Linked DNA regions of Homo sapiens: regions 1, 2 and 4 are each linked to region 3. Evidence: fine-mapped expression QTL. A gene starts in region 3. Each other region holds a variant in brackets. All regions are shown on one strand. Distances are from middle to middle.

The links. PIP is the estimated chance that this variant, and not a neighbour inherited with it, causes the effect.
Region 1: its variant is the best candidate, but not a certain one, in a credible set for the expression of EFCC1 in whole blood (TOPMed, PIP 0.53).
Region 2: its variant is the best candidate, but not a certain one, in a credible set for the expression of EFCC1 in left ventricle (GTEx, PIP 0.90).
Region 4: its variant is the best candidate, but not a certain one, in a credible set for the expression of EFCC1 in breast (GTEx, PIP 0.75).

What each region holds. Positions count from the first base shown.
Region 1 is chr3:128,954,032-128,961,616 of GRCh38, reverse strand. All of the region lies in intron 9 of CFAP92 (cilia and flagella associated protein 92 (putative)), which reads left to right. Among named protein-coding and RNA genes, the nearest start is that of CFAP92, 36 kb to the left of the region's middle. The variant C/A (reference allele first, on the strand shown) is at 3,778.
Region 2 is chr3:129,019,103-129,026,687 of GRCh38, reverse strand. All of the region lies in intron 2 of EFCC1 (EF-hand and coiled-coil domain containing 1), which reads right to left. It also overlaps a transcript of CFAP92 not described here. Among named protein-coding and RNA genes, the nearest start is that of EFCC1, 22 kb to the right of the region's middle. The variant C/T (reference allele first, on the strand shown) is at 3,824.
Region 3 is chr3:128,996,850-129,004,434 of GRCh38, reverse strand. EFCC1 (EF-hand and coiled-coil domain containing 1) reads right to left here and starts at 3,131. Exons shown (of 8, transcript NM_001377500.1): 1 at 2,111-3,131; 2 at 358-641. The coding sequence starts at 2,806. It also overlaps a transcript of CFAP92 not described here.
Region 4 is chr3:129,031,804-129,039,388 of GRCh38, reverse strand. EFCC1 (EF-hand and coiled-coil domain containing 1) reads right to left here. Exons shown (of 8, transcript NM_001377500.1): 4 at 6,423-6,570; 5 at 5,060-5,225; 6 at 2,272-2,412; 7 at 489-558. Among named protein-coding and RNA genes, the nearest start is that of GP9, 25 kb to the left of the region's middle. RefSeq lists enhancers at 1-269, 270-1,245, 5,303-5,857. The variant A/C (reference allele first, on the strand shown) is at 3,445.

The sequences.
Region 1 (7,585 bases), 43 kb after region 3:
TATCTGATTTGGGATAAAGAAAAAGGAGCATTAACCTTGACTATGCCTTCAGCTCCAGCCACCTTTTTAAGAGTAAATTGCTGGGCAGGTGGGGGAGGGCTAGTCACGGAATGAAAACCATAAGCAGGACCAGGTGTGAGGAGGGGAGGTGATAAAAGGATTATAGGGTGGAGGAGCGGAGGCTGAGGAAGAATTGGGACCTAGCTCGGCCTGGTGAGGAGGGGAGAGGTCAGATGGGTCTGTAGAAAAGGAAGATTAGAAAGAGTCAGTGATGCTTGGGGTTGGGACTGAGGGGACAGGCGGGAGGGAAAGAAGGAAGATTTGGGAGGAGTTGCCCTGGGCACAGCGACTAGGAAGGGACTGATGTGTAAAAGAATGCCGGGACGTCAGGCACCTCAGACCGTTTGCCTATTTTACGACAAGAATTATTTAGATCTTGCAGGATGGAAAAATTTAAAGTGCCATTTTCTGGCTATTTGGAACTACTGTTGAGTTTGTATTGGGGTCAAGCGGCATTGCAGAAGAAAATAAGGCATTTAGGTTTTAGGTCAGGTGTGAGTTGAAGAGGTTTTAAGTTCTTGAGCACACAGGCTAAGGGAGAAGGAGGAGGAATGGAGGGTGGAAGGTTGCCCATAGTGAAGGAAGCAAACCCAGAGAAAAGAGAGCATAGAGACCCGGAGGGAAGGGGTTTGGGGGTTCTTGCCCCCTAGAAAAGCGGGACTTGCCGCTAAGGGTGAAGGAGAAGGGGTTGAGGGGTACTTGCCCCTGCCCCAGGAAAGTGGGACTTGCCGCTGAGGGTGAAGGAGAAGGGGTTGAGGGGTACTTGCCCCTGCCCCAGGAAAGCGGGACTTGCCGCTGAGGGTGAAGGAGAAGGGGTTCACGGGTACTTGCCCCTTCCCCAGAAAAGCGGGACTAGCCGCTAAGGGTGAAGGACCAAGGCAGGCGTCCCTGCGTGGTCTGACACCCTTGAAACGTGGGTGTATAATCAGAGAGCGTCCCTGCAATGATTAAACACCAAGGGAAGGCTGCCTTCCCAGTCCGTGACCGGCGCCGGAGTTTTGGGTCCACGGATAAAACGTGTCTCTTTTGTCTCTACCAGAAAATGAAAGGAATTGAAATTAAGGGAGAGATTGAAGTGTGGCACCAAGATTGAAAGGAGAAAGAGGTTGAGGGATAGTGAGGGAGGTTGGAGAAGAGAGTCAAAAGAGGCCGCTTACCGGATTTGAAATTGGTGAGATGTTTCTTGGGCTGGTCGGTCTGAGGACCTGAGGTCATAGAGGTGGATCTTTCTCACGGAGCAAAGAGCAGGAGGACGGGGGATTGATCTCCCAAGGGAGGTCCCCCGATCCGAGTCACGGCACCACATTTCATGCGCGTCCGTGTGAAGAGACCACCAAACAGGCTTTGTGTGAGCAACATGGCTGTTTATTTCACCTGGGTGCAGGCGGGCTGAGTCCGAAAAGAGAGTCAGCGAAGGGAGTGGGGCCGTTTTATAGGATTTGGGAAGGTAATGGAAAATTACAGTCAAAGGGGGTTGTTCTCTGGTGGGCAGGGGTGGATCTCACAAAATACATTCTCAAGAGTGGGGAGAATTACAAAGAACCTTCTTAAGGGTGGGGGAGACTACAAAGTACATTGATCAGTTAGGGTGGGGCGGGAACAAATCACAATGGTGGAATGTCATCAGTTAAGGCTGTTTTTATTTCTTTTGTGGATCTTCAGTTACTTCAGGCCATCTGGATGTATACGTGCAAGTCACAGGGGATGTGATGGCCTGGCCTGGGCTCAGAGGCCTGACAGTTATCACCTGTATTTTACCATTTAGGATCCCACAGTGAGATACAAAAGAGATGGGGTTCCTGGGATTAGGTGTGACCAGTCCTGAGGTCTCCTACTATGCCGCAGGTGCTCTTCACATGCAGGTCATGAACCTCCCTTCAGGAGCCCCCAGGCTTCCCTCTTCCTGTGGCAGTTGCCAGCGGGATGCTCACTCATTGTGAACCAACCAGGTTCAGCACTGCTGTTTATTCTGTGAGTTCCTTGTTCCCTCTTCTGGTTGGATCCCTGTCTCCTGAATTCTCTCCCTTTATTTGCTGTCTGGTTTTGCTGGAGTGCATCCTCTAGTAGCTTCTCGAGAAAAGGTCAATGGGAGATTTATTTTTGAGATCTCATATGTCTGCAGATATATTTTTTTCTACCTTTTTTTATCCTTACACATGACTGGTAGTTTGGCTGCATATAGAATTCTAGGCTAAAAATCATTTGCCTTCAGAGTTTTGAAGGCATTGTTCCATCATCTTTTATTTTCATTGAAGTTGAACCTTTGTATGCGAACTGTTTTTTGTTTCTCCAAATGCTTATAAAATCCTTTTTGTCGTCTTTTTTATTTTATTTATTTATTTATTTGAGGCAGAATTTTGCTCTTGTTGCCCAGGCTGGAGTGCAGGGGTGCAATCTCAGCTCACCACAACCTCCACCTCCTGGGTTCAAGCGATTCTTCTGCCTCAGCCTCCCGAGTAGCTGGGATTACAGGCATTTGCCACCACGCCCGGCTAATTTTGTATTTTTAGTAGAGACAGGGTTTCTCCATGTTGGTCAATCTGGTCTCAAACTCCTGACCTCAGGTGATCCACCTGCCTTGGCCTCCCAAAGTGTTGGGATTACAGGTGTCAGCCACTGCGTCCAACCTTGTCTCCTTTTTTAAAAAAATTTTTTTGAGACAGGGTCTCACTCCACTGCCCTGTCTGGAGTGCAGTGGTGTGATCATAACTTACTGCAGCCTCAACCTCCTGGGCTCAGGTGATCCTCCTGCCTTAGCCTCCCTAGTAGCTGAGACTGCAGGCACACGCCACCACACCCAGCTAGTTTTTGTATTTTTTGTAGAGACAGGGTTTTGCCATGTTGCGCAGGCTGGTCCTGAACTCCTGGGATCAAGTGATCCTCCTGCCGTGGCCTCCCAAAGTGCTAGGATTATAGGTGTAAGCCACAGTGCCAGCCCTTTTTGTCTTCTGAAACTGCTTGTGTGTCTTAGTGTGAGTATGTCCATATACATATGTCATACTTTAAAATATAGATTCACGGAAAGTTGCAAAGACAGTACAGAGAGGTCCCATGTATCCTTTGTCCAATTTCCTCAGTAATTAGGTGTTTCATAACTATAGCACAATATCAAAATCAGCACATTGACATGAGTCTAATGTGTATATAGGTCTGTGCCATTTTATTGTACATGTATGTAACTGTCACAGCACTTGAGATGTAGAAATATTCTATCATCACAAAGATCTCCTTCGTGCTACCCTTTTATAGTCACAACAACCCCTAACACCCACCATCCCTAACCACTAATTTGCTATCTCTATACTTTTGTCAATTTGAAAATGTTATTGTTAAGGATTGAATTGTGTTCCTCCAAAAAATGGTATGTTGAACTCCTAACGCCCAGTATCTCAGAATGTGATCTTATTTGGAAAGAGGGTCTTTGCAGAGGTAGTCAAGTTGAAATGAGGTCATTAGGGTATCCTTATGAAAGGGGGAAAATTGGACCCAGAGACAGACACACGTAGAGGGAAGACTATGCAAAGTGACACACAGAGAACGCCACATGGAAAGTGGATGCTGCCACATGCCAGGGGACATCTGGGGCCACCAGAAGCTGGAAGAGGCAAGGAAGGACCTTCCTGAGCACCTTCTGAGGAAATGTGGCCCTGCCAACAGCTTAATTTCTGACTTCTAGCCTCAGAACAGGGAGACAATAAATTTCTGTCATTTTAAGCC[C/A]CCCCCCAGTTTATGGCGCTTCGTAGGAAACTGGTGTGGTTATATAAATGAAAACATCCAGCATGTGACCTTTTGAGACTGGCCTTCTCCCCCACTCCAGGATAATGGCCTTGCATGTAGTTTGGTCATGTTTCTTTATTTACTCTGCCTTTTAATTGACGTATTTAGACCATTATATTTAGAGTAAATGTTGATATATTAGAGCTTAAGTCTACCATTTTAATTTTTGTTTTCTGTCTGTTCCTTCTGTTTTTTTGTTTCTCTTGGTTTTTATTCCTGCTTTCTTGTGGGTTACTTGACCCATTTTTAGAATTCCATTTTGATTTATCTGTAGTATTTTTGAATTTATATCTCTTGGTATAGATTTTTAGTGGCACTCTGGATATTATATTTAACGCATAACATAACTTTTCGCAATCTCTTGGTATCAATATTTTACCAGTTTGAGTGAAATATAGAAACTTTACCTCCCTCCATACCCCTTTAGTTTCCCTAAATATTTCCTCTACATAGATTGATAACCACATGAGATGATGTTATACTTTTTGCTTCAACTGTCAAACATAACACATAACCTAGAAAACTCAAGGGTTGAAGGAAAGTGTATTTGTTTACCCGTGGTTCTACTTATTCCATTATCCTTTCTTCCTTTCTAATGTTCCAAGACTTCTTTTGTCATTTCCTTTCTGTTTCAAGAACTTCCTTTCGCCTTTCTTCTAGGATAAATCTGCTGAAAACAAATTCTTTTAGTTGTTCTTTGTCTCAGGGTGTTTTTATTTTTCCTTCATTCTGGAAGGATAGTCTTACTGGATATAGAATTGGTATAGAATGGGGTTGATTTCTTTTTTTTTTTTTTTTTTTTGAGAGAGTCTGGCTCTGTCACCCAGGCTGGAGTGTAGTGGCATGATGTTGGCTCACTGCAACGTCTGCCTCCTGGGTTCAAGTGATTCTCCTGCCTCAGCCTCCTGAGTAGCTGGGATTATGAGCATGCACCACCATGCCTGGCTAATTTTTGTATTTTTAGTAGAGACAGAATTTCACCATGTTAGCCAGGCTAGTGTCAAACTCCTGACCTCAGGTGATGCACGCACCTCGGCCTCCCAAAGTGCTGGGGTTACAGGTGTGAGCCACTGTGCCTGGCTGGATTTTTTTTTTTAACACTTGAAAAATGTTATACCACTTTCTTCTTACCACTACAGTTTCTGATGGGAAATCTGCTGTCATTCAAATTACTTTTTTTTCCCTATAAGTAAGGTGGCATTTATCTCTTGCAGCTTTCAAGATTTTCTTTCTTTGTCATTAATTTACAGAAGTTTGACTATGACATGTCTTGGTGTGGATTTCTTTGTGTTTATCTTATTTGGGGTTCTCTCAGCTCTTTGAATCTATAGGCTTATGTATTTTGCCAAATTTGAGAAAATTTTAGCCATTATTTATTGGAATACTTTTCAGCACCACCTTTTTTCTCCTCTCCTTCTGAAACTCCAATGACATGAATATTAGTTCTTTTGTTTTAGTCCCACAGGGCCCTGAAGTTCTGATTTTGATTTTTGTGTCTTTTTTCCCCTGTGTTGTTCAGATTGGGTAATTTCTTTTTTTCTTTCTATTTTCTTTTTTTTTTTTTATTTTTTTATTTTTTTTTTATTTTTTTTTTTAATTTATTTTTTTATTGATAATTCTTGGGTGTTTCTCACAGAGGGGGATTTGGCAGGGTCATGGGACAATAGTGGAGGGAAGGTCAGCAGATAAACAAGTGAACAAAGGTCTCTGGTTTTCCTAGGCAGAGGACCCTGCGGCCTTCCGCAGTGTTTGTGTCCCTGATTACTTGAGATTAGGGATTGGTGATGACTCTTAACGAGCATGCTGCCTTCAAGCATCTGTTTAACAAAGCACATCTTGCACCGCCCTTAATCCATTTAACCCTGAGTGGACACAGCACATGTTTCAGAGAGCACAGGGTTGGGGGTAAGGTCACAGATCAACAGGATCCCAAGGCAGAGGAATTTTTCTTAGTGCAGAACAAAATGAAAAGTCTCCCATGTCTACTTCTTTCTACACAGACACGGCAACCATCCGATTTCTCAATCTTTTCCCCACCTTTCCCGCCTTTCTATTCCACAAAGCCGCCATTGTCATCCTGGCCCGTTCTCAATGAGCTGTTGGGCACACCTCCCAGACGGGGTGGTGGCTGGGCAGAGGGGCTCCTCACTTCCCAGTAGGGGCGGCCGGGCAGAGGCGCCCCTCACCTCCTGGGCGGGGCGGCTGGCCGGGCGGGGGGCTGACCCCCCCACCTCCCTCCCGGATGGGGCGGCTGGCCGGTCGGGGGGCTGACCCCCCCACCTCCCTCCCGGACGGGGCGGCTGGCCAGGCAGAGGGGCTCCTCACTTCCCAGTAGGGGCGGCCGGGCAGAGGCGCCCCTCACCTCCCGGACGGGGCGGCTGGCCGGGCAGGGGGGCTGACCCCCCCCCACCTCCCTCCCGGACGGGGCGGCTGGCCGGGCGGGGGGGCTGACCCCCCCACCTCCCTCGCGGACGGGGCAGCTGGCCGGGCAGAGGGGCTCCTCACTTCCCAGTAGGGGCGGCCGGGCAGAGGCGCCCCTCACCTCCCGGACGGGGCGGCTGGCCGGGCAGGGGGGCTGACCCCCCCCACCTCCCTCCCGGACGGGGCGGCTGGCCGGGCAGGGGGGCTGACCCCCCCCACCTCCCTCCCGGACGGGGCGGCTGGCCGGGCGGGGGGCTGACCCCCCCACCTCCCTCGCGGACGGGGCGGCTGGCCGGGCAGAGGGGCTCCTCACTTCCCAGTAGGGGTGGCCGGGCAGAGGCGCCCCTCACCTCCCGGACGGGGCGGCTGGCCGGGCAGGGGGGCTGACCGCCCCACCTCCCTCCCGGACGGGGCGGCTGGCCGGGCGGGGGGCCGACACCCCCACCTCCCTCCCGGACGGGGCGGCTGGCCGGGCGGGGGGCCGACCCCCCCACCTCCCTCCCGGACGGGGCGGCTGGCCGGGCAGAGGGGCTCCTCTCTTCCCAGTAGGGGCGGCCGGGCAGAGGCGCCCCTCACCTCCCAGACGGGGCGGCTGGCCGGGCGGAGGGCTGACCCCCCCACCTCCCTCCCGGACGGGGCGGCTGGCCGGGCAGAGGGGCTCCTCACTTCCCAGTAGGGGCGGCCGGGCAGAGGCGCCCCTCACCTCCCGGACCGGGCGGCTGGCCGGGCGGGGGGCTGACCCCCCCACCTCCCTCCCGGATGGCACGGCTGGCCGGGCGGGGGGCTGACCCCCCACCTCCCTCCCGGATGGGGCGGCTGGCCGGGCGGGGGGCTGACCCCCCCTCACCTCCCTCCCGGACAGGGTGGCTGCCGGGCGGAGATGCTCCTCACTTCCCAGATGGGGTGGCTGCTGGGCGGAGAGGCTCCTCACTTCTCAGACGGGGCAGCTGCCGGGCGGAGGGGCTCCTCACTTCTCAGACGGGGTGGTTGCCAGGCAGAGGGTCTCCTCACTTCTCAGACGGGGCGGCCGGGCAGAGACGCTCCTCACCTCCCAGACGGGGTCTCGGCCGGGCAGAGGCGCTCCTCACATCCCAGATGGGGCGGTGGGGCAGAGGCGCTCCCCACATCTCAGACGATGGGCGGCCGGGCAGAGACGCTCCTCACTTCCTAGATGTGATGGCGGCTGGGAAGAGGCGCTCCTCACTTCCTAGATGGGATGGCGGCCGGGCGGAGACGCTCCTCACTTCCCAGACTGGGCGGCCGGGCAGAGGGGCTCCTCACATCCCAGACGATGGGCGGCCAGGCAGAGACACTCCTCACTTCCCAG
Region 2 (7,585 bases), 22 kb before region 3:
AATAAGGTCACTGTCTCCAAGACTCAAGGGTAGAGGCAGGTACCTGGTTATATGGCCCCATAGGGAGGTGTTTAACTGGGGTGAGACAGCAAAGATGGGAGTTGGTAATCAAAGGGAGGCGATTTTAGCTCACTGGGAGGAACAACTTTCTCGCAGGAACTGCTGATGAAGAATGATGGATGTGCTGTGGAAGGCAGTGAGCTTCTTGGCAGAGGAGGTATGTCAGCAGGTAAGGGACTTCAGCGGCTGGAATTGTGAATACAGTTGGAGGTTGAATTAGACATTAATATTGAAATCTTTCCACTATGAGATGCTGCTGCTTCTTCTATTCCCTAAATCATTTAAGGGTTTCAACAAGCAAAATGAGATGGAGGGACAGCTTTTACCCCCAGGGGCCTGTTTAAATGTTTCCTGGCACAGGCTGCCTGGGGTGGACTGGATCCCCACACTCCACCTCCTAGCACTTGCATGTGTCTTAGAAAGCCTGCTCCAGGCACAGCTTCCTGCACGGACAGCAACGACAATACCAACTAAACCCTTCAGAATGTTCTGAAAGCTGTTCTCAATATTTCAAACATCTTCCTCATGAAAACCCTATAACAGGTAAGGTCATTATCTCCATTTACAGAGGAGGAAACCAAAGCACTAAGAGCTGGAGGAAGCTGCTGGAGCCGCACCGCGGGAGAGGTGGGGTCTGCACTCAGGCGGGAGGCTCCAGGCCCACATGCCAGGCACAAGGGAAGCTTGGAAGGCAGGCTCTGGAATGACCCGGCCCAGCTGCCGTTGTCAGTGGGTAACTCCAGGTCACAGGCAGTGAAGCTGGGAAGAGAACAGAGCCATCTGGAGAGCAGGACAGATGAGGACACTCTTTGGAATTTTCCAAGAAGTAAAATGTGGCTACAGAGAAATGGAACAAGTGCTTCCTCAGGGAGCCCTGGGGTGTGCTACTGTTGTCTAGTGACCAGTATTCAACTGCTTCTCCCATTGCCCCTCTCTCTGCTGGATTATTCAGCAGATCAGCCACCCCTCATCACACTCACATGCTATAATAGCTCCACCTTCAAACAAGCAAATACACAAAACATCCTCTGACCATATGACTTTCCCAGCTACCACCCTTACTCTGCCCTACTTGACAGAAAACTTGAAAGCACTGTGCCTACTACACATGCTGCCCCAATCATGTCTTGGTCCCCGTCACATCACCCACGGCACTGGGCTGCCAAGCCCAATGGCCAGTTCTCAGCACGCATTTGACTTGGCCTAAAGAGAAAGGATTGGACATCAGATTCCTCCCTCGCTTACACACTCTTCCCGTGGCTTCCGGGAGACTGCTCTCCTCTGGGATTCCTCCTGCCTCCCTGGCACTCTTCGCCATTTTGCCTCTCCGTCCCGACCCCTAATGCCGGTGAGCCCTGGGATGCCCTCTGAGGACCTCTTCTCTCCTCAGTGTGCACTCGCTCTAGGAGGAGTCTCAGCCAACGCCATGGCTTTGCGTGCCCATGACTTCCTACTTCTTATCTCCAGCTCTGGCCTCTCTCTTGAACCTCGGGCTCAGATCCAGTTCCTGACAAGCGCCCGAACTTAACTGTGGCACCTCTATTTGGATGTCCCACAGGCTTCTCACAGCCTCTCATGCCACCTGGACTTGTCCTGGTCTTCCTCCATCTGCTCCTCCCTCCCTCAGTGAAGTGTGCCATCACCCACTTGACCACCCAAAGAGTGGCCGCTGGGTTTGGCTCCAGCAAGTAGTGCCCAGAAAATCCTCCTGGTTCTTCGTTCTCCCACCCCAACAAAAATGTCACTTTCTCAGAACTCACCTCTCCCTCTGCTATGGTTTGAATGTGTCCCCCAAAGTTCACGTGTTGGAAACCTAATCCCCAATGCAACAGTGTAGAGAGGTGGGGCCTTGAAGAGGTGATCAGGCCATGAGAGCTCTGCCCTCACGAGTGGATCCACACCATTACTGCAGGAGTGGGCTCCAGATACAGGAATGCGTTTGTCTCCCTCTCTCCCTCTTTTGTTCTTCTACCTTCTTCCCTGGAACGGTGCACCAAGAAGCCTATGGCCAGATGTGACATGCCCTTTACTTCCCAGCCTCCAGAACCCTTAGCTAAATTTCTGTTTTTCTTTTTCTTTTTTTTTTTCTTTTTTTTTGCGACGGAGTCTTGCTCTGTCACCCAGGCTGGAGTGCAGTGGTGCAATCTCGGCTCACTGCAACCTCTGCCTCTCAGGTTCAAGTGATTCTCCTGCCTCAGCCTCCCGAGTAGTTGGGACTACAGGTGTGTGCAACCATGCCTGGCTAATTTTGTATTTTTAGTAGAGAAAGGGTTTTACCATGTTGGCCAGGCGGGTCTTGAACTCCTGGCCTCAAGTGATCTGCCTGACTCGGCTTTCCAAAGGTGCTGGGATTACAGGTGTGAGCCACTAGACCCAGCCCCAAATTTCTTTTCTTTATAAATTACCCAGTCTGTGGTATTCTGTTACAGCAGAACAAATAAATATGAATAAGACACCTCTCCTGGCTCCTAGAGCCCTCGTGTGGTGTGTTATGGTGTTTCTCTCTCACCAGACTGGGATTTCCTTGAGGACAGTTAGCACAGGGACTGAGTGGCCCAATGAAGGTTTGTCAAATGAATGAATGGGATTTAGGGGTGGAAGTGCAAGGAAAGGCCAGGCCAGGGACAAGACCAGAGCCTGGGTAAGCATCCAGTTTACTCCTATCACCTATTCACCTGCTCTTGGATTGTTCCAGAAAGGACAGAGAAGGAAGAGCACTAGATCTGGAGCCACAAGACATGGGTTGAGTCCTACCATTCCCAGTTCCTATCAGCTTTGTCCTGTGGAATGGGGCTAAGCCCTCTGTGCACCTCAGAGAGGGGTGGACCCTACGTGATAGGATAATGCAGATTCCTAAGCTGCAGACATTTTTGGTCATTTGTCCTTTTATTTACTAATACATATTTTATGTAGTGGTAAATATTATAACCAATAATGAAAACCCAGCATCTCTTGCCATAAATAGTAACCATTGTTAAATTTAAGAATCAAGAGGTGGCCAGGCGCGGTGGCTCACGCCTGTAATCCCAGCACTTTGGGAGGCCGAGGCGGGTGGATCATGAGGTCAGGAGGTCGAGACCATCCTGGCTAACATGGTGAAACCTCGTCTCTACTAAAAATACAAAACCAAAATTAGCCAGGCATGGTGGCGGGCGCCTGTAGTCCCAGCTACTCGGGAGGCTGAGGCAGGAGAATGCCGTGAACCCAGGAGGCAGAGCTTGCAGTGAGCCAAGATCGCACCACTGCGCTCTAGCCTGCACTCTAGCCTGGGTGACTGAGCAAGACTCAAGACTCTGTCTCAAAAAAAAAAAAAAAAAGAAGCAAGAGGCCATTAGCCTGAGGCTGTCTCTGTACTTTGAGTGATGATCTGAAGCCGAACTTAGTATGTGAAGAAATCAAACTCTAATTTAGAAGCATATATTTGTAACAAATAGCAGGCTGAGCTCCCCAAACCTCTGCTGTCCCTGACAGCTGCCCAATTCATGACTTGTTCTTTACTCAGATAAACTCTGTTAAATTTAATATGTCTAAAGTTTTCCTTTTAACACCCTAAAAATACATAAAGCAAGAATGAAACACAGTTAGTCAGTTCTAGCTAGATCTTATTTTCTGTCTGCCTCTGAACCCGAGGCTGTTCTCTGTCCATTCAAGAGAGGCTAGCAACTGTGAGGAGAAGTTGGAGACTTCTCAGCTCCAAACCACAGCTTGGGAACCGGTGCTGGAAAAGTATGGCAAAGGCCCAACCTCCCTGCCCTGTGCTTTC[C/T]GGCCCGCGACTCCCACATTCACCCCTGCCTGCCGCACTTCTGGGCCACTGTCTTTCGGGAGCCATGGGGGAAATGGTCTGGGGGCCTTCTGTGAGCTGCAGAGACACTTGTCACTCAACAGGCATTACTGAAGCACCTCTGTCAGGGCTCCAGGCAGTTCTGGGGAAAGGCAGGCCCCAGTAGCCACCCACCCTCCCCTCACACCCTCACTTCCTGGCAGACCCCAGAGTCCTTGTGTGCGGTTGGGTGTTCCCTCCAGCTGGCCACATCTGCACAGCATCCGGAGGCCGGGTGAGCCTCTGATGTCTTCCTCCTGCTGGAGGCTGATGGCCACATCTGGCCGCCAGCCCAGGGGCTTATACAATCTGACAAGGGCCAGATGTTGCTCTTCCTCCCTTCCGCTGTCCTGGCCACTCCTGGCTCCTGGCTCCAGATCTTCATGTAACAGACCCCTCCTTCAGTTCTGTGATGCAAAGAGGTGGATCTGAGGAGCCGCAAACCTGGGTTCCACCCTCAGGACTGTGGCTTTGCTGTGTGACCTGCACAACTCCCTCCCCGTCTCTGAGCCTCTATTTCATTTTCCTCATTGATTAATCAGTCAACACTGCTGGGGACTCTGTGCTAGCTGGGCCTGGCGGTCCTATGAGGATGAAATGAAATGACATGGTCCTTCTAAACTTTGTGGAGCTCCTGCCCCTGGTAATATTTGAAAATAATACAGGTTCTATATAGATATGACAAAAAAATGACATTGATCCTAGAGGATCTGAAGCTTGGTAAATGCTTAGACACCAGCACACGGTGAGTTCTGGGTGCTGTGAGAGCAGAGCTCTGCGCCTGCCCCGGCCACCTCTGCCCCTCACAGCAGAGGACCCCAACCCTAACACACTGACGCCCTCTTTCTACAATGGCCCTGTGCTATTCCAAAATGAGCTGAATACGTAATATGCCCTATTTTCAGATGTACTTCAAAAAAAAATTAATGTGATGCCCTAATGGTAATTTAAAAGAGAAAGAAAAGGAAAGGAGTTTTATGATATACATTTCAATATGTAAATACTCACAAACAATGAAATTTTCAGATACTTTAACCTGTCTGTGATGGATACATTTGAATTTAAGAGGGGCAAGGTAACATTCAACTGAATGTTGTTGATAATCTTTCCCTATATTTGGCATTTTAAAATATCCAGATTGATAGATGGATTGATAAATAGACAGATACCCGCGCAGACTCACAGTACAAGCATAAGGACTGCCAGTGTTTTTTGTTTGTTTGTTTGTTTTTTGAGACGGAGTTTCAATCTTGTTGCCCAGGCTGGAGTGCAATGGCATGATCTAGTCTCACCACAACCTCCGCCTCCCGGGTTCAAGCGATTCTCCTGCCTGAGCCTCCCCAGTAGCTGGGACTACAGGCCAGGCATTCCCTGCCAGCAGCTTAAGCACCATGAGTTTTGTCACTGTCTTTGATGTGCCTCTGAAATGATGAGCAACTCTTGGAAAATGCCAAACAAAACAAAGTGTGACCTTCCCTCAACTCACACAGCATCGGATTCTTGGAAAACCCTTTGTATATTAAAACCTTGTGGAAAACCCTGTGTTTATATATAAGACAGAGGTGGGCTCCAGTCTCAGATCATCATGACGAAAGTGAGGTTTGCGCAGCATAAATGTCCAGCAGGACACATGGAGCTCATGTGGGGTTTGGGGTGATGCTTGGTCATACAGGATCTGCCCAGAGCCTTGTTTCCCTGGCAGGGCCCCTCATGTGTCAGGAGCACCACCCTTCCAGTCACTGAGGCAAACCCTCCTCCCCACGAATTTCCAGAAAGTCCTGGGGGAGATACTGCTCCCAAGGAGATGCCCTGTTCCAGACCCCTCCCAGCTCTCATGAGGCCTTACATCCCACTGGCCACGGCAGCCTCACCCTGGGACTACGAGGTGCCCACCCCTGTGGGTTTGGACTTGGAGGCTGCCAGGTCAGCACACTGGACCATGCCCCAGCCTTCAGAAGGGTGGTGTCCAGGGTTCCCGTCTGCAAGTGCCCAGCCAGCCTGTAACCTTCCTGGCTCCCTCCCCTGGAGCCTCTGGGCTCACAGAGCCTTTTGAGAAGGGCATCTGGCCTGTGTCTGTTTAATCCTGGGCCAGCCACTCCAATAAGCGTGCCTTACCAAGTCTTTCACCTCTTTGAGACTCAACTTTCCCATCATTTTATTATTTATTTATTGAGACAGGGTGTTACTCTGTTGCCCAGGCTGGAATGCAGTGGCGTGATCTCAGCTCACTGCAGCCTCAACCTCCCAGGCTCAAGTGATCCTCCCACCTCAGCCTCCTCAGTAGCTGGGACCACAGGTGCAGGCCACCATGCTCAGCCAATTTTTGTATTTTTTGTAGAGATGGAGTCTCACTATGTTGCCCAGGTTGATCTTGAACTCCTGGGCTCAAGTGATTCACCCATCTCGGCCTCCCAAAATGCTGGGATTACAGGTGTGGGCCATCTGTCCAGCCTTCCCAATCTTTTAAATGGGAGTAAGTCACCCAAGCTCATAGGGTGCAAGTCAGGGCTAAATTAGGGATGTATGTGCCTGGCACAGAGTAGGCACTTAACAAATATTAACTCCCACACTCTGTTTACAGCTTCCTGCTTGTTCATCTTTCCTTTTCTGTTTCTCATTTTACCCCCTAAAACCTCAAATAAATGCATAAATTTCTGCAGTGCTGTCCTAGTGTTTTAATCTGGCCTGCATCGTCCAATATGGTAACCACAGTCACATGTAGCTATTTAAATTTAATCAGGCTGGTTGCGATGGCTCATACCTGTAATCCCAGCACTTTGGGAGGCTGAGGTAGGTGGATCACCTGAGGTCAGGAGTTCGAGACCAGCCTGGCCAACATGGTGAAAACCTGTCTCTACTAAAAATACAAAAATTAGCCGGGCGTGGTGGTGGGTACCTATAGTCCCAGCTACTTGGGAGGCTGAGGCAGGAGAATCGCTTGAATCTGGGAGGTGGAGGTTGCAGTGAGCTGAGATCATACCATTGCACTCCAGCCTGGGCAACAAGAGCGAAACTCAGTCTCAAAAAAAAAAAAAAAAAAAAAGTAAATTTAATCAAAGTTAAATAAAACTAAGAATTCAGTTCCTCAGTTATGCTAGCTACATCAAGTGCTCAGTAGCTACCTGTGGCTCACAGCTACCAGTGCAGCCAGAAAGCGTTTCCATCATCTCATAAAGTCCAGTTGGACAGTGCTGATCTACAACTTATATTAAAAGTTAAATAGTTTACAGTCATTTTTCCCAGAACTGTAGTTCTCTCTTGTTTGTACTACAATTATATGAATCTAGAATGTGACTGTTTATATAAACACAAAATATATACAAGTGAGGGTCCTGCTGCGGTCTCACATCCTCAAAGGAATTATTGGACTGATGAGCAAACCACTAAGACAAACACTGATGAGTGGACTGACTGGGCTTCTAAATCCCATGTGAGTGAAGGTAGCCAGCCCTCGCTAAACCTAAACCTACCCAGGACAAACTTAAAGCTGGGTCCCTGTCTTCATCACCCAAAAGGGTAGACTCCAGGTGGACTGAACACCTAAAAGATACAATTAAAACAAAAGAATATCCAGCAGAATACCCTTGTGACCTAGGAACGGAGGACCACTCAAGAATTCAAAGGCAAAAATCATAAAGCCAAAAGAATTTGGTGAACCTGATTACATCAAAGAACACACTGGGGCCAGCTGGCATCACTTGGTCA
Region 3 (7,585 bases):
ATAGGTGGATGGATGAATGGGTGAGTGGATGGATGGGTGAGTGGATGGATGGGTGGGTGGGGGGGGTGAGTGAATGGACAAATGGATGGATGGATGGGTGGGTGTGTGGGGTGGGTGAATGGATGGACAGATGGATGGATAAATGGATGGGTGGGCAGATGGTTGCAGAGCAAGCAATGGAGCAGACTTATAACTTAAGAAATGGAGAACTGACAAAGGAATGAAAGAATACATGAATAAACGCATGGAGAAACTGCGGAACACGAGAGCGCGTGGGAGGGGGATTGCACACCCGAAGTTTGGGAAAATGGGAGCCGAATTGGGGAACTTGGGCCCAGGGCACGCGCCCCCGCTCACCTGTAGCGTTGCAGCTCCGCCTCCAGCCGCCGCACCCAGCGCTGCAAGCCGGGCACCTGTTGCGCCAGCGCCTCCAGCTCTCGCACGCGGTGCAGGCTGCGCAGCACCACCTGCCGGGCCTCCTCCGCGCGCCGCCGCACCTCGGCCTGGCCACGGCGCAGCCGCCCAGCGCGGGCCTCCGCCGCAGCCAGGGCGCCCTGCGCCTGACGCAGCTCCCGCACCGCAGCCTCCGGCCCGCCGTGCCCCATCTCGTGGGTGCTCGCCTGGCTCTTCCAGAGTCCGACCTGCGGGGACAGGGCAGCAGGGGCAGGGGGTAAGTGCCCCAGCCAGATGCACCAGACGAACGCCCGCCACGACGGCGGCCCCATGCCTCTGCACCCAGAAGCGCTTGAGCACGTTTCTTGCGCCGTCTGCTTCCGGGTGCCAGGCCCTTAGGTCCGGTGCGTCCAAGCTCCTTTAACCCTCGCCACATCCCCAGGGAGGCCCAAGCTCTGATTCCTCCTCATCCCCCACCCCCCAACGTTTTTTCACTGAAGGAAACTGAGACACGACGCCTGTATTCTGTTCCCTCTATAGTACCAACCTCGCGACTCTTCTCGGCCTACTGTATTGGCGGCGTTCAGCCTGCCGGGTGGCGGTTCCTCATCTCCTAGACTCCCCCCAGTGGCATTTCCAGCCCTCCCCGTGCCTGCTCACTAGAGGCTTTTGAGGGTGGTTTCTATCTGTCTTTACTGGTGTGTTCCCAGAGCCTAAAACAAACCTGGCACATAGTAGGTGCTCAATAAATACCAAGCATGAGAGATGCCGGAAGACCGTTCAGGCGCATCCCATGGCTCCCAGTACGTTACTTGGGATTCCACATCAGAGGAGTAGTTTCCCGCCTCCACCCTGGCTTCCATGCACACTGACACTGAAAACCACACCTTGCCACTTCCCTGCACTCTGCAGTGTCCTGAGCTAAGGCGGGGTCATATAATGTCAGTTTCTTCCTGGCCTGTTGTCGCCTGGGGTAGGGGCTGTTCCTTTCCTCCTCTGACCCCTGCGGCCCAGCACTGCCCTTGGTGCTCGGCTGGCACAGTGCTTAAGTGTTTGTCGACGGCTCCCAGATGCTAAGGCTGGGTCCCTATCTCACCCCATGGTTTCTTCTCAATAGCCCAGAGCGGGTCTGGTTCCCGCAGGCACTTGGTGGCCCGTGAGTGCCTGATCCACAGTGTGAGCCACATTGTCTGTTTCTCACTTGTCTCTGTTTCTCCCACAGGGAGCCCCATAAGTCTTTGCTGATTGACAGAAGGAGCTGTCAGTCTACCCCAGGAGGCAGGGATATCCCTAAAGGTGAGGACAGGGCCTTCTTCACACTTCTGTCTCCTAAACCTCCCAGAAGCCTGGCAGGAAGGAGAGAGAAAGATGCTTGTTGAAAGGGAATATGTGAGACTACCCAGACAGGTGCAATTCCTAGGTTAAAGGGGCAAGACGCGATGATGTGGCGGTGGAGCAGAAAAGTGGGGTATGGTTGTTTGAGTGTGATTGGGGTTTTCAGGAATGGAATAGGTGGTAAGAATAGGGTTGGGGACTGGAGTGGAATGGGGAGGAACAGGGGCAAGATGCAAGTGTGCTGATGCGGAGTGGGATGGTGTGGGGCTGCCCTCTGTCTCCCCTTCCTCTGACTCTGTCCTGTCGGGCTCCGCAGCCAGCCAGCTTTTAGTTCGAGCCCTCTCCCGGGCGTTACCACCCTCCCTTCGTGGCCGGCGCGCACCTGCAGTGCTAGGCAGCGCGCATCACTGCTCTGCAGCGCGGCGCGCAGGTCCTCCACCAACTCGCGCAAGCTGCTATTCTCCTCCTCCAGCCGCGCAACGCGCTCACAGTCAGGACCGCTGTCGGGGCCAGGCGCGCAGGGCGGGCGGCGGCGGCGGCGCGGACGGCGCAGGCGGATCTGCGTCTCGATGTGCTCGCTGAGAGCGCCGCGGGGCAGCCGGGGCCCCGCACGGGTGCCGAAGTAGCCACAGAGGCGCGCGTGGAACTGGCGGAAGGTGAGCTCCGGCGGCTCGGCGCGCAGCGCCAGGCGCGCCTCTTCATCGGTATCTGAGTCCCCGTCCGTGGCCAACTCAGCGGCCGCATCCCCGGGGGTCACATCTCTGGAGTTCCCGTCACCTGCTGCCTGCCCGGCCGTGGTGGCCCCCTCCGCGCGCAGCCCCAGCACAGCGCAGAGCGCTCGGAAGTCGGCGCGGGGCAGACGGCCGGCGCCGCGGCAGTCCAGGTGGTGGAAGACCTCCTGCAGGTACTGGTCCAGGCCGGTGGCCAGCACCACGATCTCGTTCTCCACGCCGCGGTCCAGCCCGTAGTGGTGCGCCAGGGCGCTCAGCAGCCACTGCGTGCGCCGCGCAGGTCGCCGGTACGGGTCACCTCCCGCGCCCTCCATGCCGGCCTCCGCGCCCGTGCTGACCGGCTCCATCGCTGCGCCGCGCGCCTCGCTCCTCCGGTCCCTCCTCCGGTCCCTTCGCCCCGCCACTTCCAGGGGCGGCCCCAGAGTTTCTCGAAAGGAGGGGCTTAGCGGTCGCGGTCTGGTTGGAGCGGCGCCGGGGACCGTGTCCAGCAGCTGCGCTGGCCTCACAGTGCGTCTGGTTTACCCCAGTTGCTTTGGAGGGGCCTGGGGTAGGGGGTCCAGGAACCCCCGGGACCCCGGCAGCGCCACCAGTGCCCGGTCGGCGTCTGGGTCTGGCTTCTCCGCGTGACTCCCACGCTCTCCTCTCCTCACTCACGGGGCGTTCCTGGCGTCTGCGCTTTTCCTCCCACTCCCGGCCGTCCACTCTCAACTCCCTCCTCCCTCCGCCCCGCCCGCCTGGCGCGGAGAGTTCGCTCCGAGACCTGGGCGAGGGGTTGGCGCGGGATCCGAAGCCCAGGAGGGCCTTGGGGGTGGCGGCCTCGTCCGGTTGCTGGGGATGTGCCCCCACACCCAAGCGTCACTCTTCCCCCTCTTCCCGGAAGGCCTTTCGAGGGTTGCCTGGCAAGCCTGCTCTCGCCGCCCTGTAGCCGTAGGTGCGGAAAAGCCTCCCCTCCGCTTCAATTCAGCTACTGGGTTTCCGAACCCACTTCTTGTGCCACCATAGACCGTGCAAAGAGCCCCAAGTAGTAACTGGGAAAGAGAGGGAAACAGGCTTGGAGAGGCAAGGGGTCTAGGTTAGGGGCACCCCGCTGGTGAGAAGCCCATCTGAGACGAGCCCTGTGCTAACTGCTCTCTCCCGATCCCTGTTGGGGGTGGGGATAGGACTCTCGGGAAAGTGGTGTCTCCCGGCCCTGCCACCTTTGTGCCTGCCGGTGCTGACTTGGCAATGGGATCCGAGTTCCATCTCTTGAGCTGGGGTTAGGTTAACAGGTCGATGATTGGCTGATGTTTTTTTCTGGTGTTTTAGAACACATTTCTGGAAGATGAAGAAAAACCTGCTTCTCTGGTGAGTGCTAGACTGTGTTCCCTTTCTTTTTCACGAGAGGGGTGCAGTGATATTGTGATATTGTCCACCTGTTACCTGCACCGGGAACGGTTATCCAGCCACGGTACCCAGCCATGTTGGAGCAAGAGGCAGACTCTTCAGCTGTTCCTAGCTATGACAGAGACAGAATCTTGCCTTGTGGATAACTCTGTGAGTTTAAATGTAAAATCTTGCCGTTTGAAAAGCGATAGCATTCTGTCTCCTCTGCCACAGTATCCCAGAATCAGCACGTTGTCCATTTGGCAAATTCGTACTTGTTCTTGAAGGCTTTGCCCAGAGTACATATCTGCTGGGAAGGAGTTAGAGGCTTCTCCCCAAGCATTTTGGACATATTCTTTTAGGTTTGTTTTTAATTATAAAAGTAATGGCAATTTGACAAAGTTTTTACATCACGTCCACTTCTTGGCTTCTACCTTCGAAAGCCACTGTGCACAGGATGTTCACTGCATCATTGTTTATTACAGTGAGAAACTGGAGACAACCTGGTGTCCATCAAATCAGCTAGGACTCAGCAAACGAGGATGAGCGGACACAGCAAGCCACAAGCTGATTATGCACAACACTGATGCTTACATAACAAGAACAAAAACACACAAAACAATACTAAGTATTTTCTACTAGGACATGTGTATGTGAGTGCACAGAAGAAGATGGAGGGATTCATAAGTGGATTCAGTGGTTCTTTCTGCAGATGGGAGACACTGCAGTATTTCCCTTTTGTTAAGATGTTCTCATGTGTTTCTTTTTCTTGGCCGGTCGCGGTGGCTCACGCCTGTAATCCCACCACTTTGGGAGGCCGAGGCGGGTGGATTGCCTGAGGTCAAGAGTTCGAGAACAGCCTGGACAACATAGTGAACCACCCCCATCTCTACTAAAAATACCAAAAGTTAGCTGGGCGTGGTGGCAGGCGCCTGTAATCCCAGTTACTTGGGAGGCTGAGGCAGATGAATCGCTTGAACCTGGGAGGCGGAGGTTGCAGTAAGCTGAGATCCTGCCATTGCACTCCAGCCTGGGCGACAGAGCGAGACTCCGTCTCAAAAAAAAAAAAAAAAAAAAAAAAAGAACCTGATTTTATTTCATGTCAGCCCTAAGAGCTGGTAGCCCAGGCAAGAGTGCAACACCCTCCCCACCCCCCATCCCTGCAGCTGGTGAAGGAATCCTTTGAACAGTAGCTTTCCTGGGCCAGTCAATATTGAAAAGAAAGCTTTTAAATGTCTTGCTGGGAGCCGTTGCCGGCCTCCACTCCCCTACAGCTCAGGGAAGTAAGGGTTGATAATGGTTTGCTGTCAGGCCTGTCTGTCTGCCCTGCGGTGTTACCAGGCACCTCTGAAATAATTCTGGTTGCATCCACAAGGTTTTTGTTTAAGGTTCAAAGTGAGCAAACTCAGAGGTCTCCTTGCGTTCTTTTGTATGAGCTGGGGGGATGGGCGTGTGTCTGTGTGGGAGAGAGTCAGGGCTGTGGCAAAGAAATGATTTTCTGAAGTCAGTTCAGTATTGTTTGAGCCATTTCAAATAGTATATTGTTTAAAGTGTCTTTTAAAGGTCCGGGAAAATGCTAAAAAGCAAAAATCATCCACCATTCTGCCACCAAGAGAGGATCACTGTGTATTTCTGATGTATTTATTTCCAGACTTTTCTATGTATTTGGGCATGAAAGAACTTTTTGGAGTGATTGAAATACTCTATCTTCATGGTGTAGTGGTTGCATGACTGTGTACATCTGAATTTTACAGTGTGCAAATCGTAGCTCATTCAACTTGACATGAAAAGCACAGTGGAAAGGGCGCCATTGGGATCTTTCTTTGCACAGGAACTGAGCTTTGTAAACAGCTTGGCTGTGGTTTCTTTGCAGACACTGCTCCAGAGGCTGCTCTGTGCTCCCTGGGGATGAACTATAAGGTGCTTTGTCATCCCCCACAGATGCCCACTGAGGTGGTTTTCAGCTTTTCTCCGCAAAAACCATACTGTGAACAGTTTGTGCCATATCTTGAGTGATTTATTACTGGGCCAAGGAGTATACATATTTTATAAGCTTGTGGTATTATCAGCCTGTTTTTTGGAAACTTGTGTTGTTCTATCCAGAGCCCAGAACTGTCTGGGAATGTCCTTGGGCCATTATTTTCAGTGTCATAAAGCTTTTGGGTTTTTAGGGGTCTTGGTTAGTAGATTTGCTTAGTGTTCAGACACCAAGCTTTACTTCTATTAAAAATAGGCCTGTTGTTAGTCAAAGATTTCTTAGATACGACACCAAATGCATGATCCAAAAAAGAAAAAAATGATGAATCGGACCTTCATCAAAGTTCAAAACATTTGCACTTCAAAAGACACTATTAAGAAAATATGACGAACAAGAGACTAGGAGAAAATATTTGTAAAACATATGCCCAGTAAAGGACTTATATTCCGAATTTACAATGAACTCTTAACAACTCAGTAACAAGAAGACAAACAATCCAATCAAAAAGTGGGTGAAGATACAAACAGACATTTCACCAAAGAAGTTGTATAAATAGCCAACATGTGCATAAAACAATCTCAGTATTCTTGTTAGGGAAATGCACATGAAAACTATGATGAAATACTATATTATACTCATGAGAATAGCTGTAGTGAATAAAACAGGCAATAAATCTTGTCAAGAATTTGGAGAAACAGGAAACTTCATGTTGTTGATGGGAACACAAAATGATGCAGCCCCTGTGGAAGATAGTTTGGCAGTTTCTCAAGAAGTTAATCACAAAATGACCATACGACCCAACTCTTCCACTCCTAGATATCGACCCAAGAGAGATGAAAACACATCCACACAAAGACTTGTGTGGGAATGTTCATAGCAACGTTGTTCATAAATGTCTAAATGCCCAAGCCAAATGCCCATTAACTGATGAATGGATAGGCAAACTGTGGTCTGTCCATACAATAGAATATTATTCAGTCATGAAAAGGAATGAAATACTGACACATGCCTCAACATAAATAAACCTTGGAAACATAACGGTAGGTGAAAGAAACCAGTCACAAAGCCAGAACACAGTGTCTGACTCAATTTATAGGAAATGTCTAGAAAAGGCCAATTTTTAGAAACAAAGTAGATATGGTTGCCTAGGACTGGGAGTTGGAACAGAGATTAATTATAAATGTGCATGAAGTCTTATTAGGGGGATGAAAATGTTCTAAAATGAATTTATGATGATGATTACAGCACTAGGTAAAGTTACTGAAAATCATTGAATTCTACGCTTGAAATGGATGGATTTTATTAAATAAAAAATACTTCAATAAAGCTGTTAAAAATGGGGAAGGGGCAAGAAGAAGGTGTATGTAGCTGATTCCCAATATGCTTCCAGCTGCCAGAGTCTTGGGATAGCTTCAGGAAGGCCTCTACATAGCCTGTGGGAGCTTGGGAACCCTCCACCCGGCAGAGTAAGGATGAAGGGATGGATTGTTCAGTGACCTTGAACACCTCCTGCCCCTGGATGCTTGTCCCTCTGCTTACCAGATGTACAGTCCATGTCTTCATCCCCTTGAAGTGGGGCCAGCCTCATGACTTGCTTTGGTTAATGGCATGTAGCAGAGTGACATGGTGCTGGTTCCACGCCTAGGTCCCAAGAGGCCTTGCAACTTCTTCTTTGCCCTCTGGGATCCCTGCTCTGAGAATGCCATCTGAGGAAGCCAGGCCGGGCTATGAGGAGATGAGGCACCACATAGAAGGAAGCTGGTGTACCACTGGGGGCGGGGGAACC
Region 4 (7,585 bases), 35 kb before region 3:
GAGCTCGGCCTGGCTGCCCCAGGCATAAGCTGGCATTCCTGCTGTTCTGCTCCCTGAGCTTCGTCTAAACACCGGGTCCATGTTATTGAGTGCTTAAGGGAGATGCCCCAGCCTCGGGCGTGGCCAGCACTTGACCCCTGTGCCTCAGTCTCTTCCTCTGTGGAAAGGGGATAACAACTCATTCCTTCTAGGGCCATTGTAAGGATTCAGGGGTTTAAAAACCCTTGGGGCACCTCCCCCGCATGTGGCTGCAGTGCTGCCGGTGGCGCCCACCCATCCCCTCACTGGGCTTCTGTCTGGCACTTCTGCCTGGGGCTTCTGTGCCTCTGCTCTTGCTAAAAGCCCCTTCAGCTTTCTAAAGCATGCAGGGCAGGAATAACATGATTGTTTTGCAGACAAGATGCTAAGCATGAAGCACACTGGAGTCTCCTCCTCAGGACACCCTCCAGCCACTGCGTGGGCTCTGAGAGACTAGGGTGCTCTCCTACCGTGGGTGGGGTCCCTGAAAGCGTCCAGCGTGCTCAGCAAAATCTTCCCCAGGGCTCTTTTCGATATGTTCTTAAAAAGAAATGGAAACAAGGCTGGATTAGACTGGTTGCTGTGTCCCTGTTCAGCCGATGGGAACTGGTGGCCCCTACGGGCTTCTAGGCAGCTCCCTGGGGACAGATAAAGCTCCTCCCCCACCCTCATCGCTTCTTGGCCCCCTACCCCTAGGCTGGCCACACTGCACTTCCCAGAGACTCTTGGAGGGCGAGTGGGGCAGTGGGCAGGATCCATGCCATCAAAGATCACGTACCTAAGGATTACCATCTGTGCCCAGGTAGACACTGAGAAATAACCCTAAGAGCATTTTAATGCATTTGCTCATTTGATTTTTGCAACAACTTATTTTATTATGCCCATTTTAACCAGCAGAAAAAAGCAATGCTGGGAAAGAATGCGAAATTTGCCAAAGCCACCCAGCTGGGAGGTGGAGGGGCTGCATCATCTACCGTGAGGCTGCATGGCCTATGGCCTCTGCTGGGAACCACTGCCCTTGCCTGCCTGGGCTAGGATTGGCCTCTTGGGGCCCATCCCCAGGTCTCTGCTTGCCTAGGACGTGGACATTGGGCTGGACCTCGGCAGCTCTGGGTCCCAGGCAGCCCAATGCACAGGGCACAGCCCACTTCAGAGCCCCACAGACCTGGGTCTTGCTTTCTTTCTAGTCCTTATAGCCTTTCTCTTTCCTTTTGCTGCACTGGATGGAACCTCTGCTTCACATGAAAACAGTGATGACAGGCATTCTTGTCTTGAGTCTGATTTTAATTTTAATTTTTTTTTTTTTTGAGATAAGGTCTTACTCTGTCACCCAGGCTGGAGTGCAGTGGCACAATCTCAGCTCACTGCAACTTTTGCCTCCTGGACTTTGGCAATCCTCCCACCTCAGCCTCCCAAGTAGCTGGGACCACAGGCATACACCACCATGCCCAGCTAATTTTTTTTTTTTTTTTGTAGAGGTGGGGGTTTCACCATATTGGCCAGGCTGGTCTCGAACTCCTGAGCTCAAGCGATCCACCCACCTAGGCCTCCCAAAGTGCTGGGATTACAGGCATGCACCACCAGGCCCAGCCACATCTGATTTTAGGGGGATTCCTCTGAACACGTCACCAGTCAGTGTGAGATCTGCATGAAGTATTTGGTTGAGAGCCCTTATCTGGTGAAGGAAGATCCCTACTATTCTTAATTTGCTGAGGGGTTTTATAATCAAAGGAGATTGAATTTTATTGACTTCCTTTTCTGCATCAATTGAGATGATCATTTGGTCTTTCTCCTTTAATCTGCAATGTGGTGTATTTTGGTAATAGATTTTTTGATGTGGAATCATCCTTGAATTTGTAGGATAAGTCCAACTTGGTCATGTTGCATTTCTTTAAACACTGCCAGATTTGGTTTGCTAGTATTGTATTTAATAATTTTGCATCCATGTTTAAATGTCACATTAGTTTATAATTTTCCTTTCTTGTCTTTCTTCCATTTATCCTTTTCTGGTTTTGAGAACAGAACCAGAAAAGGATACATACAAGAGTTTTATTAGCTTCTTAAAATGACCTGGGGAGCCCCCCAACCCTATTTTTGGTTGGTTCTTCTGAGCCTCCATTTCTGCATCTGTAAAATGGGATAACAGCTGCCTACTGTAAGGAGAGCCTAGAGCCTGGTGCCTGACACAAGTGGGGCTCCCTCCCAAGAGCTCCTTTCCCTTCCCTGAGTGTGGCAGCTCTCCCGTGAGCCTACCAGGTCCCGGAGCCTCTGCAGGAGCTGCAGCACGTCCACCAGCTTCTCCTCCAGCAGGGACAGCCGCACCCTCTCGGTCTCTACCATCTGCAGCTCCAGCCTCAGGTGCTCATTCTCTTCCACCTTCTGCTGCAACTCTGCCTGGGAAGAGAAGGGGCTCAGTGCTCACTTTGCTGGCCTCTCCCAGCCTTCCAGGTGGCAGGATCAACTACTCCATCTCCCCGAGGCTGGTGCTGAGGCCCAGAGAAGCTGAGTGTGTGGCCTAAAGCCACACAGCGGGTTGGACTGATGTAAGAGTTGTATATTTTGTTTCCCACTCTAAGGACTCCATTCTCCCTTCTCTTCTCTGGTTTTGTTTCTTTCAAACAAATTAAGTTTAGTGGGAAGCTGCAGAAGCCAATCTGGCTAGCTTACACAGAGAGGAAATTTATGGCAGGCTAGTGGGCAGATCCCAGAATGGACTAGCAGCTGGAGAACCTCAGGAATGGGACAGGGTTGAGACAGTGGGAGTGTCCCAAGCCTCTTATCCAAGAGCCACAGCCGAGAAAGACCCTCTCCAGCCATCCCCATCCCCCAGCATGGAGAGCCCCAGGAGAGGGGCGTGGTTGGCCCAGTCGGAGTCTTGGGCCCACTCTTGGCCAGGGGGCCACCTAAACCGTCAGTTGTACCCAGTAACACTAGGATGCCAGGCAGTCACAAAGTGTTTTGTGGCCCCTGCCTTCTAAAGCAGGCATGCCAGGCACGAGGCATTCCCTTCCCCTGGCACCAATGGAGGGAAAGAGAAGCAGTGGAAAGTGTGGTGCCTGAGGGCACTCAGGGTCCACCCTGGGCTTGGGCAGGAAGAGGGAAGGCCCAGTGCCTCTGCTCTTTAGGGATGTGACTGGAAGGCCAGCTAATTTTAGGATCCTCCAAGCCCTGTTTCCTTTAAATATTCTTAGAAAAGGGGTGGCTATGCCCTTCAGAACTTTGTGACTGCCAGTTTATTTCCTGATGGCCCACAACACTCCACCCTCCCCAGCCACAGGGCTATGACTTTCCTGAGGGGTGCCTGGGCAGGCAAGATCAAGGCCTCCAGGAAACCAGAGCGGTGGTGGAGAAAATGTAGAAACAACTTTCAACTTAGGAGACCTGCACAACACAGAAGAGTGCTAGAAACAGGGACAGCCGTGGCGC[A/C]TGTTTGCTGAGCACTCACCACAAGTGTTCACCTGTTTGATACATGTGTATAGTACCATTATTATGCCCATTTCACAGGTGAGGAAACCGAGGCACAGAAAAGTTGAGTAACTTTTCCAAGGTCACACAGGAAATGGAGTCAGGATTTGAATCCCGGCAGTCTGGCTTCAGCACATAACCGCCATGCCATGCTACTTGGTGTTAGCAGCCTTCTCTGGGGAGTAAGTGAGGGGTGGCCCTATCCCGGTGCAAGGGTTCCAGAAGCTGGAGGTGGTGCAGACCCGATCTCACTGGAAGGTTTAGCTGCAGCCACACTGGCTTGCCCTGTAATGACATTCAACTTTGTTTCCTTTTGCACATTTCAGCAGAATGTTTGCATAGTCCTGGTCTTTGTCCAATCTACTGCAGCGCTCCAGGGCCTGCTACCTTCTGTCTTGGTCTCTGATTTCATGCACTAAGAGGCTGGAGCCCAAACAGGCCCCTCTGCTCCCTCCTGCCCCCAGTGACTCAACCCCTGGCCTCAGGGTGGAGTGGTGTGGCTGCCTTGGTTCAAGGTGGGCACACTGGCGTGGATGCGGCATGGGCTCCCAGCCCAGCCCATTTGACCTCTCTCAAACTGTTTCCTACCTCATTGGGCCCTTTGAACATAAAATAAGACAGAGCACATCAGCACCGAGCGTGTGGTTCATGGGTTGTACAAGTCAGCTGGTATCATTTTTAAAAAGTTATTTAAGGAACTAGGACTTCATCAGGCCATATATAAGTAAAAAGCAGTACAGACTTAGAATTTCAGATGTATAAATATAAAACTATGTCAAAACCAGTTTGTAAAAGCACAGTGGGCTAGGGCTTAGTGAAATGACAACTTTCAACAGCATTGCACACTTGGCTACTGTGGAATAGAGACTTTCCTATGGAGTAGAGAGAATGAGAAATGCGAAGTGGTCGTATTGAAATGGAGACAGCTGGATGCTCGGCCCCCCTTTCCCTCTTCTTCCTACCACACTTCCTTTCTTTTGGGAAACTGCCCCTGCTCCACTTCATCTGACTTTGGTGGCAGTGCCAATCACTGAACCCGCCCCACCACCACAGGGATTGGCCCAGGGACGGGCACATGACTGAGGTGGCCAATCGGAGTTCCTCCCTGAGATTTCATGTACTAGGAATGAGACTCATTTTCCTGTGAGGGCTTCCCAGGTGGGCTGATGGAAGTCTAGGGCTGTTCATGGTCCTGTCTTCCCTTCCCCCATCATATGGAGTAAGCCCTTTTGAACTAGGGGAAAGTGAGGCCACCTCCTACAGAAAAACACAGCAGATAGATGGAGACAATCTGGTCTGAGTCCCTGGACCCAGCTGTGCCTGAAGCCCAGACCATCTTCTTCTCAGCTCCATGTTCCAATATCTGTTTTGCAATCAAGCTAATTTGAGGTGGGATCCTTTAATTTGCAACCAAAATATTTCTTATTAAATTTAAATCAGAGGAAATCACCTCCCTCTGGGCCTTGGTTTACTCATCTGGGAATGAGGCACAAGACTTGGCTGCAATCCCTCAGACCCTTCCAGCTGTGAGATCCTCTAGAATTGCTCCAGCCTTTGATCTCTAGGCTCTGCTGACCTCCTCCTCAGAGGTCCCCAGGGTCCTCCCACCGCAGCCCTGAGTCCTCAGCTGCTCCACCAGCATGGCAATGCAGGCCTCCAGCTCCCCCAGGGTATGGGCATGGTTGGCACCGCCGAAGTGACCAAAGTAAGTCATGAGCTTCTCCGCCGTCTGGTCATCACACCTGCAGCAAAGGAGAGGGCCCGCATTGCAGGGGGCTGCTTCCCAGAGCCCGCTCTGTCCAGCCTTGGAGAGGTGGTGGTGGTGTGGAGTTGGCCTCCTAAAGCAAAGCCAGGCCACGGCACCTGCCTGCCCAGTACCCTCCCATGGCCCCCATCTCACTCTGAGGAAAAGGCAAAGGCTTCACCTGATCTGCCCCATGAGCTCTCTGACCTTCCCTCCCACCCACCTGCACTCACACTGCTCCAGCCACAGTGGCCTCCTGGCGGTCCCGCCAACATGCCTCAGGGCCTCTGCACTTGCTCTTCCCTCTTCCTGGAATGCTCTTCCCCCAGCATCTGCATTGCTTATTCCCTCATTTCCTTCCCTGCATCTCCCTGCCCCGCCTCTGTCCCTGTCCCTGTGTGACCCCTCTTCCTCAGGCCTGTCACACTCACTAGAGGATCCAGAAGAAGAGGCCACTGTCTGGTTTACTGCGATTTTCCCTGTGCCTCAGATTTTGCCTGGCATGTAGTAGGTGCTTTATAAGTGCTTGTTGACATGAAGAATTGGTGGTAAAAACAACCCCAGAAAATCAACAGCATTTTACCATACATTAATAACTGTTGCCCCCACCGGCGTTCCCACCTACTGTGCACCAGGCACCTGTTAGGCATTGTATATCTTTGACCTCAAATCCTCACACAGCCTCTGCCACACAAGTGTCACCATCCCATCTTAGAGACAAGAAGACTGAGGTTCGGAGAAGCCAGGTGACTTGTCTGAGGTGTCCCAGGTGTCCTGGGCCTGTCCTCGGTCCCCATGGGGGTGGAGGTGAGGATGAAACAGGGAGCCAGCACCTGCCCGGGGCCAGGCTGGAGAGCTGTGGAAATGGTGTGTGGCGAGGGGTGATGGGTTGGGAAAGGGTCTGAGAGGAACACTGGTGTCTGGGAGTGCTACAAGAGCTCCAGTGCAGGTGCTGGTGAGAAAGCACGAATGGGAATTAAAGCCAGCCACGAGATGTGCCCTGGAAGGTCATCCCACTTCATCCTCTACATGCTGGTGGGCCTTCCCACCTCCCCCTGAGGGACAAGGGGACAGAGTCGCAGAGGGGCTGGGAGGTGGCTGAGCCAGGCTAACCAGCCTCCCAGGTGCTCCTGGCTTCCCCAGACACCTCTGGAGCCTGCGGCCCACAGTGGCTGACGCTGGACGGGCCACACACCTGCCTCTGCAGCTGGAGAGCCGGGCCAGCAGTGTCTTGGCCTCGGCTGCCGGCGTCTTCTTCTCCTCCTGCCACCTCTCCTCCTCCACCTCCTCCTCGTCAGAGGCGGCCTGGCCCTCCACGGAGCGGAACAGCTGCTCGTCCACTGCTGGGGAAGCACAGGATGTGGGGATGCAGGACAAAGGGTGGGGAACCAGGCATCCCTCCCCAGGGGGACATGTGCAGCGCAGCCCCAGGGGAGGGCTCTTGTGCCATGTCCCCTCTTGAGACAGCCACCCCCACATCCCAGGCTCCTGTGCAGTGAGGCCACCAAGGCTGGTTCTGTCTCCTTGTAATGTGACCAGCCCAGGAGTGAAGCTGGCCAGTCAGAGCCCCTTCCTGGGACTTTACACAGGGACATGGGGAGAAATGCTCTCTTTTTCTTCTCTTTCTTTTCTTTTTCTTTTTTTTTTTAGAGACAGGGTCTCGCTCTGTCACCCAAGCTGGAGTGCAGTGGTGTGATGATAGCTCACTGCAGCCTCAAACTCCTGGGCTCAAGTGATCCTCCTGTCTCAGCCTCCCAAAGTGTTGGGATTACAGGCATGAACCACCGTGCCTGGCTTCTTCCCTGTTTTCTAAGATGACACAAGCCAGGCCCTGTTTGTGGTCTCAGAGGTAAGTGTTATTTCCATTTTAGGCCATACCAACCCCAGTCAGGAAAGGCCAAGCCAGTCTCTTAGGAGCTGGGGTGGGCTCCTCACGGTACAGGCACCAGGATGGACAGATTTTCAATGCTCAGGGAACTACAGGCGTCTAATGTTTGGAGTAGTGTGGAGGAAGGGGGTGTGACACATGTGACTGTCTGCGGTCCACAGTATTGCTTGGCCTTGACGGTGGGCTCCCACCTGTGTCAGCATCAGGAAGCCTGGGGGTCTGTGTGGCCCCCTGGTGTTCTGCTGCCCAACCTCAGTCCCCATCCCCGTCCCCAGGGGAGTCCCACTCCCTCCTCTTCCTCTCCACCCAGCTCCAGGGGCACTTGAGTCAGGCCCGGCCAGGCTGAGTGCAGCCTCCTCTGCAACTAGTTCAGGAAGGGCAAGGGACCCAGTGGGAGCCACTGGAGTTAACCCAAGACTTGGACTCAAAACTTGCAGGGAAGAGAAATGCCCTCCATGCTTCTGGCTTGG